Regions from separate parts of the Homo sapiens genome. Here region 2 is linked to region 1. The links come from fine-mapping of genetic effects on gene expression. Tissue or cell type: tibial nerve. Region 1 holds a variant in brackets; the other region holds the start of a gene. All regions are shown on one strand. Distances are between the middles of the regions.

Region 1 (8,317 bases):
CTTTTTTTCTCTGTCTCAACCAAGAAATGCAGAGTGCCTTCACCACTCTGTAACCTGGCCAGCTGCATGTTTTCGCCTACATGTTTGAACCCAAGATGGTACCTTGAACATTCTCAGACACTGATAAACTTGATTAGGTTGTTGCTGGAAACACTGAAAGATCGACTATTTTGCTAAACTTATAGACTCCTACCCCCAGGGAAATTTTCTTTCCTCCCTCCCTTCCTTCCTTTTTTCTTTTTCTTTTTTCTTTTTTTTCTTTTTTTTTTCACAGAGTCTCACTCTGTCGCCCAGGCTGGAGTGCAGTGGCGCAATCTCAGTTCATTGCAACCTCTGCGATCCTCCTGCCTCAGCCTACCGAGTAGCTGGGATTACAGACGTGCACCACCACACCCAGCTAATTTTGTTTTTCTTTTTTCTTTTCTTTTCTTTTTTTTTTTTTTTTTGAGACTGAGTCTGACTCTGTTGCCCAGGTTGGAGTGCAGTGGCGTGATCTTGGCTCACTGCAACTTCTGCCTCCTGGGTTCAAGCGATTATCCTGTCTCAGCCTCCTGAGTAGCTGGGATTACAGGCATGCACCACCACGCCTGGCTAATTTTTGTATTTTTAGTAGAGACGGGGTTTCACCATGTTGGTCAGGCTGGTCTCGAACTCCTGACCTCAGGTGATCTGCCCGCCACAGCTTCCCAAAGTGCTGGGATTACAGGTGTGAGCCACTGTGCCTGGCCTAATTTTTGTATTTTTAGTAAAGATGGGGTTTCACCATGTTGTCCAGGCTGGTCTCCAACTCCTGGCCTCAAGTATCCACCAGCCTCGGCCTCTCAAACTGGTGGGATTACAGGTGTGAGCCATCATGCCCAGCCTTGTTTTCTTTCTTTTTTTTTTAAAGGGTCTCACTCTGTCACCCTGGCTGGAGTGCACTCGTGTGATCATGGCTCACTGTAGCCTTGACTTCCTGGGCTCCAACGATCCTCCCACCTCAGCCTCCCAAGTAGCCAGTACTACAGGTGTGCACCACCATGCCTGGCTACTTTTTAAATTTTTATTTATTAAAAATATTTTTTTCCTTTCTTTCCACAGGTGCTGACTTTTTATTTTTGTAGAGACTGGTGTCACTCTGTTGCCCAGGTTGGTCTTGAACACCTATGCTCAAGTGGTCCTCCTGCCTTGGTCTCCCAAAATGCCAGGATTACAAGTGTGAGCCATAGTACTGGCTTCAAATTTCTTAAACACTCCTATAAACACCATACCCCGAACCCCTCCTTGAGAACATACCTGGGTAGAACACCCTTTGTCCCATTGTCCACAGCAAGGATGTGCAGTAGCTGTTCTGTAGGTAAGTTCCCCTAATGTATGCTTTGGCCTGATTGCCCTGGCATTTAGTGCTTCATTCACTGGAATCCCAACCAGCCCCATCTTGGGATGGTTTGGGGCATCCTTTGTGAGTGCTGCCCTGATGCCACTTTTGGTGTGACACTAGCTGTGGGTTCAGCTGATACTAACTGGTGGGATTCTCTGGAAGGGCTTTGATAGCATCATCATCATCATAGCATTCATTAGTTACCATTTGCCCATTCCCCACTGTCCAATCTTTATCGAGCACCTACGCTGTATCAGGCCCTAAGGACACAGTAGTGAGCAAAACAGACAGGGCCTTTGCCCTCTGTGAGATTTACAGTATAGTGGGGAGACAGACTATCAACAAGTATCAGAGAAATAAATATGTAACTACAAACCTTGCAAGTGCTACTAAGTAGTGGATCAGGGTGCTGGAACACAGAAGCCAGTGGGAGAAGAGAGAGGGTGTATTTTATTTTATTTATTTATTTTTTTGGAAGCGGAGTTTCACTCTTGTCACCTAGGCTGGAGTGCAGTGGCACGATCTCAGCTCACTGCCACCTCTGCCTCCTGGGTTCAAGCAATTCTCATGCCTCAGCTTCCTGAGTAGCTGGGATTACAGGTGCACGCCACCATGCCTGACCTAGAGGATATATTTTAGACAAGATGAGATGGTTGAGGAAGGCCTCTTTGAAGTGATTATTTTGAAGCTGAAATTTGAAGGATGAGAAGGAACCGGTGGGGGCAAATGGAGAAAGGGGTTTTCCATGGCGGCGGGGCGGGGGCAGAAATAATATATGCCAAGGCTCTGAGGAAGAAAAAGCTTGGTGCCAAGGAGACAAAGAGCTGCAATGAGGCTGAGTGCCTGGAGTGCAGGGTCGTGGCCCATAGTGAAGATAGGGGACCTGAGCAGGATCTTGTAATGTGGTGGGTTTACCCAGGGGATGGACATGATCCAACTGATGGTTTAGGTCCCTCCCGCTGCTGGGTAAAGAATAGATGGTAGCCGGGAGCGGTGGCTCACGTCTGTAATCCCAGCACTTTGGGAGGCCAAGGCAGGCGGATCACCTGAGGTCAGGAGTTTGAGACCAGCCTGGCTAACACGGTAAAACCTCGTCTCTACTAAAAACACAAAAAATTAGCCAGGTGTGGTGGTGCGTGCCTGTAATCCCAGCTACTTGGGAGGCTGAGGCAGGAGAATCACTTGAATCCGGGAGGCAGAGGTTGCAGTGAGCCGAGATCATGCCATTGCACACCAGCCTGGGCAACAAGAGCAAAACTGCGTCTCAAAAAAAAAAAAAAAAAAAAAAAAAGAACAGATGGTAGGTACAGGCAGAACTACTGCGGGCTTAGGAAGAATCTAGGTGGTAGGTGATGGACTAGCATGTTGGCAGTGAAGACGAAGAGAGGGGGACGGCTTGGAGATGCATTTTGGAGAAGAGCCAGCAGAGTGGAACGGCAAAACAGCCGTGGAGAGGGCGGCTTCTAGTGTCGAGGAGTCTGGCTTGAGCAGTTGGGTAGATGGTAGCGCCACTAACTGAGACTACGGAAGAAATAGGTTTGAAGTAGGGGGAAATTCAAGCTTTCTGTTTTGACAGGCTAAATTTGAGAAGCCAGTTAATCATTAAAATCCATAGTCAGACAGTTGGAGCTGTTCATCGAGCACACTTCCTGTGTGCTGGAACAGCATTCATGCCTCATGGACACCATCTCCTTTTATCATTGTGACAACCTAGAAAGAAGGTAGGATCAACAGGCTGTTTTACAGATGAGGGAACTGGGCCGTAGCAAGGTGTGTTCCTTTTCCACTCTGCTGTGGGGCCAGGAGGCTGACGGCTTTGCACAGTGGCGTCTGTAGGGTTTGGAGAGTGGCACCCATAGGAGATGAGATGGAGAGGGTGAGGTTGAGCATTTACCTCCCCAGTTGCCATTCTAGGGACCATTCTCTCCCTATCCCTTGGACCTTACAGGGGTAACAAAGCCCACTGTTATTAGATCTGGGGTAATGCACTATCCGTTGTGGTTTACCAACACCCTGCCCATTCCTTTGTATAATCCTGTTATGAAACACCTTCAAATTATCCCATTTAAGAGAATTCTTTATTTCCTGAAGAAACCCTACCGAATACACTTGTCTGATGCAAAAAGTCTTGTCAGGAGTGGAGCTGGGATTCAGGCCCAGATAGTGGAGCTCCAGAGCCCGAGCTGTAACCACTAAGCTCCATGCCTGCCCCTTGGGACTGTTTCAGTGGGTGGGAAAGGGAGAAGTCTCTGACTCTGGAGTTGGAAAAGAAAGAGAGAGATAGTAGAGAGGACTTCCGGAGGGAAATGAGCATGGGGCCTCATCTTTCTGTATATAGAAGACACAACAAATAAAGAGAGACAAAATTTGTACCCACAGAGAATGTGGCAGACTTCAGGGACTGGGGATTCAGGCCTTGTGCTTGTGGTGTTGGCAGAGACATGGGACTTTAAGGATGGTCTGGCATTACTTTGTTTTTGATACAGGGCCTTCCTCTGTAGCCCAGGCTGGAATGCAGTATCATGATCTCTGCTCACTGCAGTCTCAATCTCCTGGGCTCAGGTGATCCTCCCACCTCAACGTCCCAAGGAGTCGGGACTACAGGCACGCACCACAATGCCCAGCTAATTTTTTTTTTTTTTTTTTTGGTATTTTCTGTAGAGATGGAGTTTCACCACGTTGTCCAGGCTGGTGCAGAACTCCTGGGCTCAAGTGATCTACCCGCCTTCACTTCCCAAAGTACTGGAATTACAGGCATGAGCCACCA[C/T]GCCCAGCTGTGGTCTGGCAATATTGAACTGACTCCAGAACCAGTTGGGAGGATAGGAATCCCAGATATCCCAGTCCCAAGGGATTAGCAGGAGGTGGGGGGCAGTTCTCCAAAGCAGCCCGTGTCCTGTCCAGCTAAGGGACAGACACTTTGACCTGAAATCAGGCCAGTTTCCTCAGCAGTCTGGCTGACCCTGGTCCACAAGTGACCACATGAAGCATGGTCTGCACTTTGTCACAGGATCATCCCTGAGCAAGAGGCCTGTGGGTGAGAAACAGAAGCCCAGCATCCAAACACAACACTCAGCTTTGTCAGTTGAGAGCCCTCCCTCCTGCCACAAACACACATGCTCCAACAGCCACACTCACACATGCACAGACACAAACGCAGGTGGCTTTTCATTCCACAGGCATGGACTGAACCCCCATATGGGCCGTGCCCCGACGCATGCCAGACTGGAGGAGGTGAGGCCACTGGGCCCAGGTCTCTGCTCAGTGTGGGGATGGAGACAGGAGCGAGGCCAGTCAGGTTTAATAAAGGAAGTCGGGGGGCACTGACAGAACTGTGCTCAGCACACAGAGGGACACCAGGAGAGACAGAGCATTGTGAGTGAGGGCAGAAGGAGGTCAGGGCAGCTTAACAGACGAGGTGCCCCCTGGTCAGACACATACACACACGTAAACATACACAAAGCTCCCCACCATTCCACACACACACACAAATACGTACTCCACTCTAACACTCACACAATATCCACACTCACACATGCAGATTTATGTATCCGGAATTGGTGGGTTCTTGGTCTCACTGACTTCAAGAATGAAGCCGCGGACCCTCGCAGTGAGTGTTACAGTTCTTAAAGGTGGTGTGTCCGGAGTTTGTTCCTTCTGATGTTCAGATGTGTTCGGAGTTTTTTCCTTCTGGTGGGTTCGTGGTCTTGCTGGCTCATGAGTGAAGCTGCAGACCTTCGCGGTGAGTGTTACAGCTGTTAAGGCCGCGCATCTGGAGTTGTTCATTCCTCCTGTTTCATTCCTCCCGGAGCGATCTCGGTTCACCACAACCTCTGCCTCCCGGGTTCAAGCGATTCTCCTGCCTCAGCTTCTCGAGTAGCTGGCACTACAGGTGTGCGCCACCATGCTGGGCTAATTTTGGATTTTTTAGTAGAGATGGGGTTTCACTATGTTGGCCAGGCTGGTCTTGAACTCCTGACCTCGTGATCCGCCCACCTTGGCCTCCCAAAGCTCTGGGATTACAGGCGTGAGCCACTGCACCCAGCCGTGTTTTGTCCAATTCTTTGTTCAAGATGCCAAGAACCTGGACACCCTCCACCGGTGACAGTACCTTATATACACGGAATCATACAGTATCTGTCCTTTTGAGTCTGGCTTATTTCACTTAGCATAATTGTCAGAGGTGCGTGAACCAGAGCAACTCCATCTTGAATAGGGACTGGGTAGAATAAGGCTGAGACCTACTGGACTGCATTTCCAGTTGGTTTAGGCATTCTAAGTCACAGGATGAGATAGGAGATTGGCTCAAGATACAGGTCATAAAGACCTTGCTGATAAAACAGATTGCAGTAAAGAAACTGGCCAAAACCTACCAAAACCAAGATGGCAACAAGAGTGACCTCTGGTGGTCTTCAACGCTATACTCCTACCACATGCTGTGTCGACATCAGGGAGTTAACTGTATATGGTCTACAAAGCAGAGGCATGAATAATCCAACCCTTGTTTAGCTTATAATCAATAAATAACTGCCTGGGCCAAGTGGCTCGTACTTGTAATCCCAGCACTTTCAGAGGTCGAGGTGGCTGGATCACTTGAGGTCAGGAGTTCGAGACCAGGCTGGCCAATCTGGAGAAACCCCCTCTCTACTAAAAACACAAAAATTAGCTGGGCATGCTGGCAGGCACCTGTAATCCAGGAGAATCACTTGAACCCGGGAAGCGAGGTTGCAGCCTCCCACGTAGCTGGAATTAAGGCGCGGACCAGCACACCTGGGTAATTTTTGTATTTTTAGTAGAGAAGGGGTTTTGCCATGTTGACCAGGCTGGTCTCAGATTCCTGACCGCAGGTGATCCGCCCAAAGTGCTGGAATTACAAGTGTGAGACTCATCTTTTTTTTTTTTTTTTTTTGAGACGGAGTCTTGCTCTGTCTCCCCAGCTAGAGTGCAGTGGTTCGCTGGATCTCAGCTCACTGCAACCTCTGCCTTACGAGTTCAAGCGATTCTCCCGCCTCAGCCCTCCTGAGTGGCTGGGATTACAGGCGCGCGCCACCACGCCCGACTAATTTTTTTTTTTTGTATTTTTAGTAGAGACGGGGTTTCACCACATTGGTCAGGCTGGTCTCGAACTCCTGACCTCATGATCCACCCGCCTCGGCCTCCCAAAGTGCTGGGATTACAGGCGTGAGCCACCGTGCCCGGCCCAAGACTCATCTTTCTTAAGCCCTTAAAGCACTTTGCACACATTACCTCATGGTATTACCACCCTCATTCAACAGATGAGGAAAGCTAGTTTCAAGCAAGTTCACTGAGGATCAGAGACGTTAAATGATTTGCCTAAAGTTAGAGAACTAATAAGTGAGAAAGCTAGTCCTGCTGCGTTTTACTAACGTGCCAATCAGCTGCCCAGGAAGATAATGAAAACTTGAGTAAGACAGGCAGCCAAAGCCACAGCGGGGACGTTCCCAGCCTGGCTCGCTTCCGGCACTGACGCCTCCAGCCGCGACCTCTAGACTTCAGCCCTTCCATTGGTCGTCCGTCACAGTGCCACAGTGCGCCATGCTCACACGACGGCCAGCAGCCAATCAGCGCGGCTCATCTTCGCCCAGCCAGGACACGCAGGATCGCGTTATCTGTCCCTCCCGCGGGCACATTGGGAGTTGTAGTCTAATTATATATTTCCGCCCTTAGTGTGGGGAGAGCGGGAACTACTCGACCCACAGAGCCGATCGCGGAGCGGATTCTGCTTTTAGGAGTACCCGCCAACAAGCGGGACCGAGCAGGAATCCGTATCTGGGAACAGGTGAGAGAGGATGTGTGCTGGGCCTTGGAGGAAGGGGGCCGAGACCGGGCCTTACTTCTGTAACGATACTGTGAGGCATCGGAAGGCCAGCCTGTTGTGTCCGTTTTGAAGGTCGGTGGGCTAGACTGGCTGGCCTTCTAGGGGTGTGGAGACTTCCCAACTCTGCCCTTGTGCTTTCCTGGAATCCCCAATATGCCCGGACCCCGGTTTACTCCTTTGCTGCGAGCCCTTCTCTCCCGTCCAGAGTTGCTCCGAGCCTATCTGCTCAGTCCTAGCGATTCCTGTGGGGCTTGGGACGCGCGGTTCAAGCACCCCGGACCATATGGATGCAGCACCCATGGGTTCTCGCTCCAATGCTTCTTTCCTCCTTGGGGCGTAACTCAGACCCTGGGCACCCCTCTCCACTGCCCAGGGGAGACCTGGGTTCTAGATTTGGCTCTGCCTCTACTATCTTCCTACCTCCTAGAGCCTCAGTTTGGCTTGTGTAAAATAGGATGACTTAAGGGTCCTTTCAGCCCCTAATCCTGGGGTACTTTACTCTGTACCGCCTCCTTACCCAGCCTTGTGCACGCCATCTTGAAGGCACTGAGTTCTAGCCTGTTTATTGTAAGTGGTGATTAGTTGGGTCTCAGTCACCCAGCCATACTTTTTTGTTCCCTGCGTATCCTTCCTGTAATTGTCCCCAAGCACATTCCACAAGAGGGAGGGGCACTCTGGGCTAAGGCTGGGGTGGGAGTTATCTGGGGAGCTGCCACCATGCCTCTGCCTTTGGTGCTTGCCCCTGCAGGGAGTGCTTAGTGCCCCCTCCCTATGCCACTCCCAGGATGCCCCTGTCCCGCTGGTTGAGATCTGTGGGGGTCTTCCTGCTGCCAGCCCCCTACTGGGCACCCCGGGAGAGGTGGCTGGGTTCCCTACGGCGGCCCTCCCTGGTGCACGGGTACCCAGTCCTGGCCTGGCACAGTGCCCGCTGCTGGTGCCAAGCGTGGACAGAGGAACCTCGGTGAGTGTGGTTGGGGTGAGGGGCCTTGGGGAGGGGAGCAGCTGATCAGGTTTCTGACTTGTTTTTCTTCTACTTAGAGCCCTTTGCTCCTCCCTCAGAATGAACGGAGACCAGAATTCAGATGTTTATGCCCAAGAAAAGCAGGATTTCGTTCAGCACT
Region 2 (8,000 bases), 29 kb before region 1:
CTGGGGCCGGTAGCATACCAAGCTGCAAGCACAAGATTTTCCCAGCATAGTTATCCTAATCAGCATAGCCACATAAATGCCATCTCACCACATACTACCATCAAACGGCCTCACAGCACTGTCCCCTCAAAACATCACTAGCCTACCTTTCTCAAGTTTGAAATCTTTTGCTTTTTCCTTTCTTACTCAGAAAATCCAGAACTCCTACAGGCAAATTCTTCCTGCATGTTCCAAGTGACACGGTGATGTATTCCTCCCCTCCAGCTTTGATTGGACCCGAGTCCAACTTTGATATTCCACTCCTTCACATCTCTGGAACCACTCCCATCCTTACTCTATCATCCCTTCTAGTCTGGTTCCGCCCAAGCTTCCTACAGGTCTTCTTGGTACATCTAACGCAGGCCGACCTCCTTCCCCCTCATCTCCCTACTCCGTCGCTTCGTAGGTCTCAACTCTCCTCCTCTCCAAATCTCGCCCCCGTCCCTTGCCCCCAACCCAAGCCTAACCCCGCCCGCCCCGCGGTCGCCATCTTTTCGCGCGGCCAGCCAACCCGCGCGCTCACCGTTCTGGCGGCGAGGCCCGTGCGCTTGTCCCACAGGAAGTCCGTGATGGCGGCGACACTGCGGCCGGAGTCCCGGCACCCCCGCGGCGACGAAATGCTGCTCCACCCCCCCAACCCGGGACCCTGGGACCTCCCGCCCCGTTCCCGGGCTCCGCTTCAGTCCCGCCCGCCCCGGCTCCGTCCCCGCCCCTAAGATCTGCTTGGCGCCGCTCGCACCGCCCCCGCCCGGGGCCCGATCCCAGCTCGGTCTCCGGCTCTGGCCTCTCCGCTCCGCCGCCGCCGCCGTGAGCGAGCACGTACGCACGGACCGACGTCCTGCGTCGCTTCCCAGCTACCCCCTGGGCTCCGCCCCCAGGACCGCGCGCGCCACCACGTGCTCACGTAGTTGGCAGGCATCCGCCTGTCAGAGCCTCGGAGGTACTGGGGGCGGAAGTTCATAGGGGCGAGGAGGGTCCACAGGGACAAGCTGGAAGCCTTCCAGGCCCGCTATGCCCCGCCTCCTGTCCTTTCCCACTCCGTCTTCAATCTTTTACCCTTTGCATGGAGACGTGTGGCTTAGTTAGGTTTGGAGTTTAAAAGAAAGGATTGTCATTGTCAATACAGTGTCGCTGCTCTGCAAGCCTGACTGTAGTGAGGCTTGATGGTGAAGTCTCATTCTTCTGCATAGCCTGAAAATAACCATTTCTTAAAACACTTCACCTACCTATCCCCAGGACAAAAGTCTGCCACCTTTTGTCATCAACAAAAGTTATGCACGACTCGGGGTGGGGACACAGCCATGGAGGAAAGGTTTGAGCAATGGAGGGTTGGAGAATCGGGTGCCGAAAAGGGGGACTTACTTGAGAACTGTATCCTAAGGTGGCTTACATAATGTGTGAGAAATACAAGTTTACTAGGGCCGGGCGCGGTGGCTCTCGCCTATAATCCCAACACTTTGGGAAGCCGAGGCGGGCGGATCACGAGGTCAGGAGTTCGAGATTAGCCTGATCAACATGGTGAAATCCCGTCTCTACTAAAAATACAAAAATTAGCCGGGCATGGTGGCGGGCGCCTGTAATCCCAGCTACTCAGGAGGCTGAGGTAGGAGAATCGCTTGAACCCGGGAGGCGGAGGTTGCAGTGAGCCGAGATCGGGCCATTGCACTGCAGCCTGGGTGACAGAGCGAGACTCTGTCTCAAAAAAAAAAAAAAAAAAAAAAAAAAGCGCGCATCACCACGCCCAGCTATTTTTTTTTTTCTTGTAGAGATAGTGCCTCACTTTGTTACCCAGGCTAGTCTTGAACCCCTGAGCTCAAGCAATCCTCCCCCATCGGCCTCCCAAAGTGCTGGGATTACAAGCATCAGCCACGGCGCTTGGCCAGTTTACTAAATCTTAAAAAAGAACAGGAAGGCTGGGCGAGGTGGCTCACGCCTGTAATACCAACACTTTGGGAGGCCAACGTGGGTGGATCACTTAAGCATAGGAGTTTGAGACAGCCTGGGCAACAGGGCAAAACCCAGACTCTTAAAAAAATACAAGGCCGGGCGCGGTGGCTCACGCCTGTAATCCCAGCACTTTGGGAGGCCAAGGCGGGCGGATCACGAGGTCAGGAGATCGAGACCATCCTGGCTAACACGGTGAAACCCCGTCTCTACTAAAAATACAAAAAATTAGCCGGGCGAGGTGGCGGGCGCCTGTAGTCCCAGCTACTCGGGAGGCTGAGGCAGGAGAATGGCGTGAACCCCAGGGGGCGGAGCCTGCAGTGAGCCGAGATTGCGCCACTGCACTCCAGCCTGGGCGACAGCGAGACTCCGTCTCAAAAAAAAAAAAAAAAAAAAAAAAAAAAATACAAAAATTAGGCCAAGCGCGGTGGCTCATGCCTGTAATCCCAACAGTTTTGGAGGCCCAGGAAGGTGGATCACTTGAGCACAGGAGTTCGAGACCAGCCTGGCCAACCTGGTGAAACCCTGTCTCTACTAAAAATACAAAAATTAGCCGGGTGTGATGGCAGGTGCCTGTAATCCCAGCTATTTGGAAGGCTGAGGCACGAGAATCGCTTGAATCCAGAAGGTGGAGGTTGCAGTGAGCCGAGATGGTGCCATTGCACTCCAGCCTGGGCGACAGAGTGAGACTGTGTCTAAAATAAAATAAAATAAAAAATAAAAATTAGCCATTCATGGTGTCTCCCACCTGTAGTCCCAGCTACTCGGGAGGCTGAGGTGGGAGGATCACCTGAGCCTGGGGAGGTTGAGGCTGTAGTGACCCGTGATCGTGCCACTGCACTCCAGCTTGGGCGACAGAGTGAGACTCTATCTCAAAAAAAAAAAAAAAAAAAAAAGAAAAGAAAAGAAAAAAAGAAAATGAGAAAGAGAAAGAGTTAGAGACTTTACAGAAGGAATTGAGAAGTGGTCAGAAAGGTCAATTGAAAGAGAAATAATATAATCTGAGAATAACGATATTAAAGTCAGGGAGCTGAGCAAGGTGGCTCACACCTGTAGTCCCAGCTACTCAGGAAACTGAGGTGGGAAGATTGCTTTGAGGCTGCAGTGGGTCATGATCACACCACTGCACTCCAGCTTGAGCAACAGAGCAAGACCCTGACTCTAGAATGAGTAAATAAATAAAGTCAGGAAATATTAGAGAGGAGCTGGATGAAGGATGGTCAGATGGAGGTTAGATCAGATAACCAGACATAGTTTAGAGAAGTTCCCTGGAATAGAACATGGAGAGCAATCAATGAAGGAGTCGGGGAGAGAGAAGTAAAGATTTCACTTCCACCTCCTGGAACATTTTCCTAGATTATTAATTCATTCAACAAGCATTTACTGAATGTCCACTATGTGTCCAGAATTATGCCAGGTGCAAGGTTCCTGTTTCTCAGAGTTTCACAATCTAACAGGAGAGAAAATCTGTAAATAAATAATGAGACCATGCTCATGCCTGTAATCCTAGCACTTTGGGAAGCCAAGGCAGGAAGATCACTTGAGCTCTGAGTTCAAAACCAGCCTGGGCAACATAGTGTGACCTCATCTCTAAAATAATAATAATAATGGTAGCCCTGTGACATGAGTTGCTCAAAACAGTGGTGCCCTGGCTGCTGTAAAAAAGCTCTAGAATAGACCCTACCTGAGGAAAGGAGAGTTGGAAATGTGTTCCTAGGTTTCCTAGAGAAAGCAAGATCTGAACCAACTGTTCGAAAGTGAATTGGAGGAGAATACCAGGCAGAGAAAATATTTGCAAAAGCATAGAGACAAGGCAGCACAAAGTCTTTCAGCATGATTGGGGCTGTGGCTTTCAAGAGAGGGACTGTCAGAAGAGAGACTGTTGAAACTAGGTCCAAATTTTTTGGGCCTGGTACACCATGCTAAGCAGCTTAAATGTACCCCTGTAGAAGATGGGAAAGCTTGATGGGCTTCAAGCAAGTGACACAGCCATAGTTGGATTTTAGGAAGGTAACTGGCAGGGAATGGAAGAAGAATTGGCCTGGAAGAGGTTGAAGACTCTTTTAGAGGTTTCCGAAGTAATTTAAGTGAAAAAATGCTGAGGGCTTGAAATGAGGCAGTGGTAATAAGAATTGGAGATGAAGGGGAGAATTTGAGATATTTAGGAATTTGTAGCACTTCGCATAGCACTGCAATTTACCTGTCTGTCGTTGGGCACAGATGAGCAGTGGCTTTATGGCTAGGCCTTTGTTTTTGTTTTGTTTTGTGTTGTTTTCCATTACTACATGGAGATGCTAAGACTAGGACTTTTGTATTCATTTTTGTTTCCTCAGCATCCACTCAATGACAGGCAGAGTTGCACTTGGTGAAGGCTGACAGAATGAATTAGGAAATTAAATACTAGGGGAAGCAGTTCGGAGGAGACCAAAAGACAAGAATATGCCTAGGACAGTGTTGAGAGAAGACGGGAGCAGGACAGAAGTCCCTGGGCGAGAGTGGAGAAGAATCCCAAAAGCCATTTCCACTTCTTCCATTGGTCCCCAATCCCTCTCCCTCCCAAGTCCTTCAAGCTACAAACCCGCGTCCGATTTTCCCGCCACTGCAGGGGGCTCCTCCTCCCTGGTTCTCAGTGGATGAAAGGCCAACGCTAGGCCACGCCCTCTCCCTGGCTCAGGCTGCGCTCCCCGCCTTCTTTGCTAAGCCACGCCCCTCTCGGAGTTCCTCCAGGATCCCGGCGTCCCAGCCCCGCCCGGTCTTGGCGCGGCCCTCGCCAGGGGGCGCCGCGCAGCCCGCCCGCCGCCCGCCAGTCTAGCACACACCCCCTCCGCCCCGCGCGCCGGCGATTCCGAGCCTACGACGCCTCCGCTAGAGCCCGCGGGGCTGCGCCGACTCCTGCTCTGGAGGGGTTGCGGGTACCTGATGGCCACAGAGGGCTCTAGGAGGCCGAGCGTGTAAGCGGGGTGGGCGCCATGGAGGCAGAGCAGCGGCCGGCGGCGGGGGCCAGCGAAGGGGCGACCCCTGGACTGGAGGCGGTGCCTCCCGTTGCTCCCCCGCCTGCGACCGCGGCCTCAGGTCCGATCCCCAAATCTGGGCCTGAGCCTAAGAGGAGGCACCTTGGGACGCTGCTCCAGCCTACGGTCAACAAGTTCTCCCTTCGGGTGTTCGGCAGCCACAAAGCAGTGGAAATCGAGCAGGAGCGGGTGAAGTCAGCGGGGGCCTGGATCATCCACCCCTACAGCGACTTCCGGTATTGGGGGCTTGGCGGGGAGGGCAGGGTACATCAATCCCACCCTCGCGGGCAGCGACACCGGGACCCGGCCCGCCCCACCCTCCACGGTCACTTCATTTCCAGCCCGGGGTCCCTTGGTGGGGCGGGAGAGTCACTTGCACCAGTCTAGCCTGGGAATTCCTGGGCGGGTATCCCCTGCCGGAGGTCCTCCGTGCCTGGACAGGCTGGGGGCACCAGAAGGGGCAAGCAGACATCAGGGGATCTCCAGAGACCTGGATTTCCTCTTTCAGGAACCCGGGACCCCATCCGGACCAAAGGAACTACCAGAGTTTGGGACCCCTGCCTCCTCCAGTCCTGCTTGCTGGAGATCTAGGAAATTATATTCTAAGTATCGGGGCCAGTCTGAGGGAGAAGCCGAGCTCCGCCATCTCCCATCCCCACACCCGCTCCTTAGCACCTGCCTAGTTCAGCATGACAGACTACCAGGAAAAATAGGGACGCTGAAGGGGGCGGGGGGTCCAGACCTCAGCTCTGGTCGCTGTCCCTAGTGCTGAAGGCGGGGGCGGCGGGGCGGGGCCGAGACTCAGAGTGACTGAGGCGGCAAAGCAGGGGCAGGACCACCACCCAGGTGACTCCCAGAGAAGGAACAGAGGGTGGGGGTGGGGCCATTTCACAGTCTCCGTCAGGGTGTACCTCTACATCAAGGTCGCTAGGGGAAGACAGCAGCCCTGTCCTTGGGGGAAATGAAGGACAGCTCTTGGATGAGGCAGGGATGTGTGCAAAGCACCTAACCTGGGGAACTAAAGAAGCAGAGAGGAAGAGGTGTGAATCTGGAGCCTCGAAATACAGTTGTAGACCCAGACATTATCTTGAATCCACATATATACACACTCCCTCTATGTCTCTCTTCCTCCCATTGTTCCTTTCACTCCTGTCTTTGCTGCCTCGTTCCCACCCAGCCAGTGCGCCTTTTCTAGTCTCCTGTGGATCTCACTCTCTTCCCTCAGTTCACTCGCAGACGGATCCCCAGAAGCCTGGTATCCCTCTGATTGTGCTTCTCCATTCTCTATACTACATCACCCGCCAGGCTTGTGACCCACCTGTGAGTCAGGCTGTGAAGATGCTTTCATGGCTAGGCGAACCCTCTTTCCCTCCCCTCTCTTAGTGTCTCACAATACAGGATTCCTCCTCAGCAGCCGAGGAGAGAAAAGAAGAATGGCCGAGGGTTTTTGTTTATTGAAAACATACAGTCTAAGGGGCTTCCCAGAGGCCCGGACTTGAGGAAGTTTCTTTCAGGGCTGAAAATTGATTTTGCAGTCCGAGTCAGAAGGGGCTAGCTCCTGAGTTGACACTGGGATTAGGTGTGTCCTAGAATTAAAACCACCATAGGTAACTGAGTCCCTGAGATTTTCCTGTGCCATTCTCTGAATGAGGGCTTCACACAGTTCCCTCTTGACCTCTTCTTTCCACGGTGTCTGCCACAGCAATGTCACTCACCCCTGCCCATGCCTCTGCCTGTGCTCAGCCAGAGTCCCAGTGGACACAGGGAGGCCAGAGGAGGAAAGGTATGCAGAACTCAAGCCTTGCTGCTTCATGATCTCCTGTGGAGCTTCTCTGTGTGTGCAGCCCTGTTTGAGGTTCTGTGGAGGGGGAAGGGCATCCCTGGAAAGCTCAATTCAGAGGAAGGCAGGATAGACCACCCCACCCTGAGACATGGATGAGCAAACCTCAGCAGAGGAACAGGATCCGTGGGTCCAACTGTGTTGGAGAAGAGGAATGGGGTGGAGAAGGCTGGGGAGGGCATGAGGTCCTAGACTAGAATGGGCAGATAACTGGAGATGGGGGAAGCAGCAGCCTTTTCAGAAATCTGGGGATAAAGAGTGAGTGAGTCATAATACCAACTAGTGCCTGTACCACACTGTCACATCTATTGTCTCCATGTAAATGTTTTCAGCAATGCTGTGAGATTAGCACAGGATACTTTAGCTTTTTTTTTTAACCTTAAAAATATTTAGCAATGGTGAGGTAAATGATATATAGTAGGGATATGTATGTAGATGGAAGAGTAATTTTATTTATTTATTTATTTATTTTTATATTTGTTTATTTATTTTGAGAAGGAGTCTCACTGTGTCGCCCAGGCTGGAGTGCAATGGCACAATTTTGGCTCACTGCAACCTCCGCCTCCCGGGTTCAAGCGATTCTTCTGCATCAGCCTCCTGAGTAGCTGAGATTACAAGCGCATGCCACCACGCCTGGCTAATTTTTGTATTTTTAGTAGACGTGGGGTTTCACCATTTTGTCCAGGCTGGTCTCGAACACTTGACCTCGTGATCCACCCACCTCAGCCTCCCAAAGTGCTGGGATTACAGGTGTGAGCCACCACACCGGCAAATTTTTATTTATTTATTTATTTTATTTATTTATTTATTTTGAGACAGAGTCTCACTCTCGCCCAGGCTAGAGGGCAGTGGAGCGGTTTCAGCTCACGGCAACCTTCACTCCCAGGTTCAAGCAATTCTCCTGCCTTGGCCTCCTGAATATCTGGGATTGGGATTACAGGTGCGCGCCACCACACCTGGCTAATTTTTTTTTTTTTTTTTTGAGACGGAGTCTCGCTCTGTCGCCCAGGCTGGAGTGCAGTGGCACAATCTCGGCTCACTGCAAGCTCCGCCTCCCGGGTTCACGCCATTCTCCTTCCTCAGCCTCCTGAGTAGCTGGGACTACGGGCGCCCGCCACCATGCCCAGCTAATTTTTTGTATTTTTTTAGTAGAGATGGGGTTTCAC

Alleles and levels. Positions count from the first base shown, and alleles are read on the strand shown. Sizes are in standard deviations (SD) of each study's normalised expression.
With allele T in place of C in region 1, the expression in tibial nerve of the gene that starts at base 4,825 in region 2 is lower (moderate effect, 0.57 SD a copy in GTEx).

Evidence for each region. PIP is the estimated chance that this variant, and not a neighbour inherited with it, causes the effect.
Region 2: it holds the start of HCN3, and the variant in region 1 is fine-mapped to the expression of HCN3 in tibial nerve (GTEx, PIP above 0.99).

The regions. Positions count from the first base shown.
Region 1 is chr1:155,301,809-155,310,125 of GRCh38, forward strand. It overlaps FDPS (farnesyl diphosphate synthase), which reads left to right and starts at 7,058. Exons shown (of 11, transcript NM_002004.4): 1 at 7,058-7,157; 2 at 7,981-8,157; 3 at 8,235-8,317. The coding sequence starts at 7,982. It also overlaps a transcript of PKLR not described here. RefSeq lists enhancers at 4,192-4,691, 5,816-5,885, 6,788-6,917, 7,248-7,417. The variant C/T (reference allele first, on the strand shown) is at 4,128.
Region 2 is chr1:155,272,639-155,280,638 of GRCh38, forward strand. It overlaps HCN3 (hyperpolarization activated cyclic nucleotide gated potassium channel 3), which reads left to right and starts at 4,825. Exons shown (of 8, transcript NM_020897.3): 1 at 4,825-5,230. The coding sequence starts at 4,953. It overlaps CLK2 (CDC like kinase 2), which reads right to left and starts at 866. Exons shown (of 13, transcript NM_001294338.2): 1 at 563-866. RefSeq lists an enhancer at 1,459-1,959.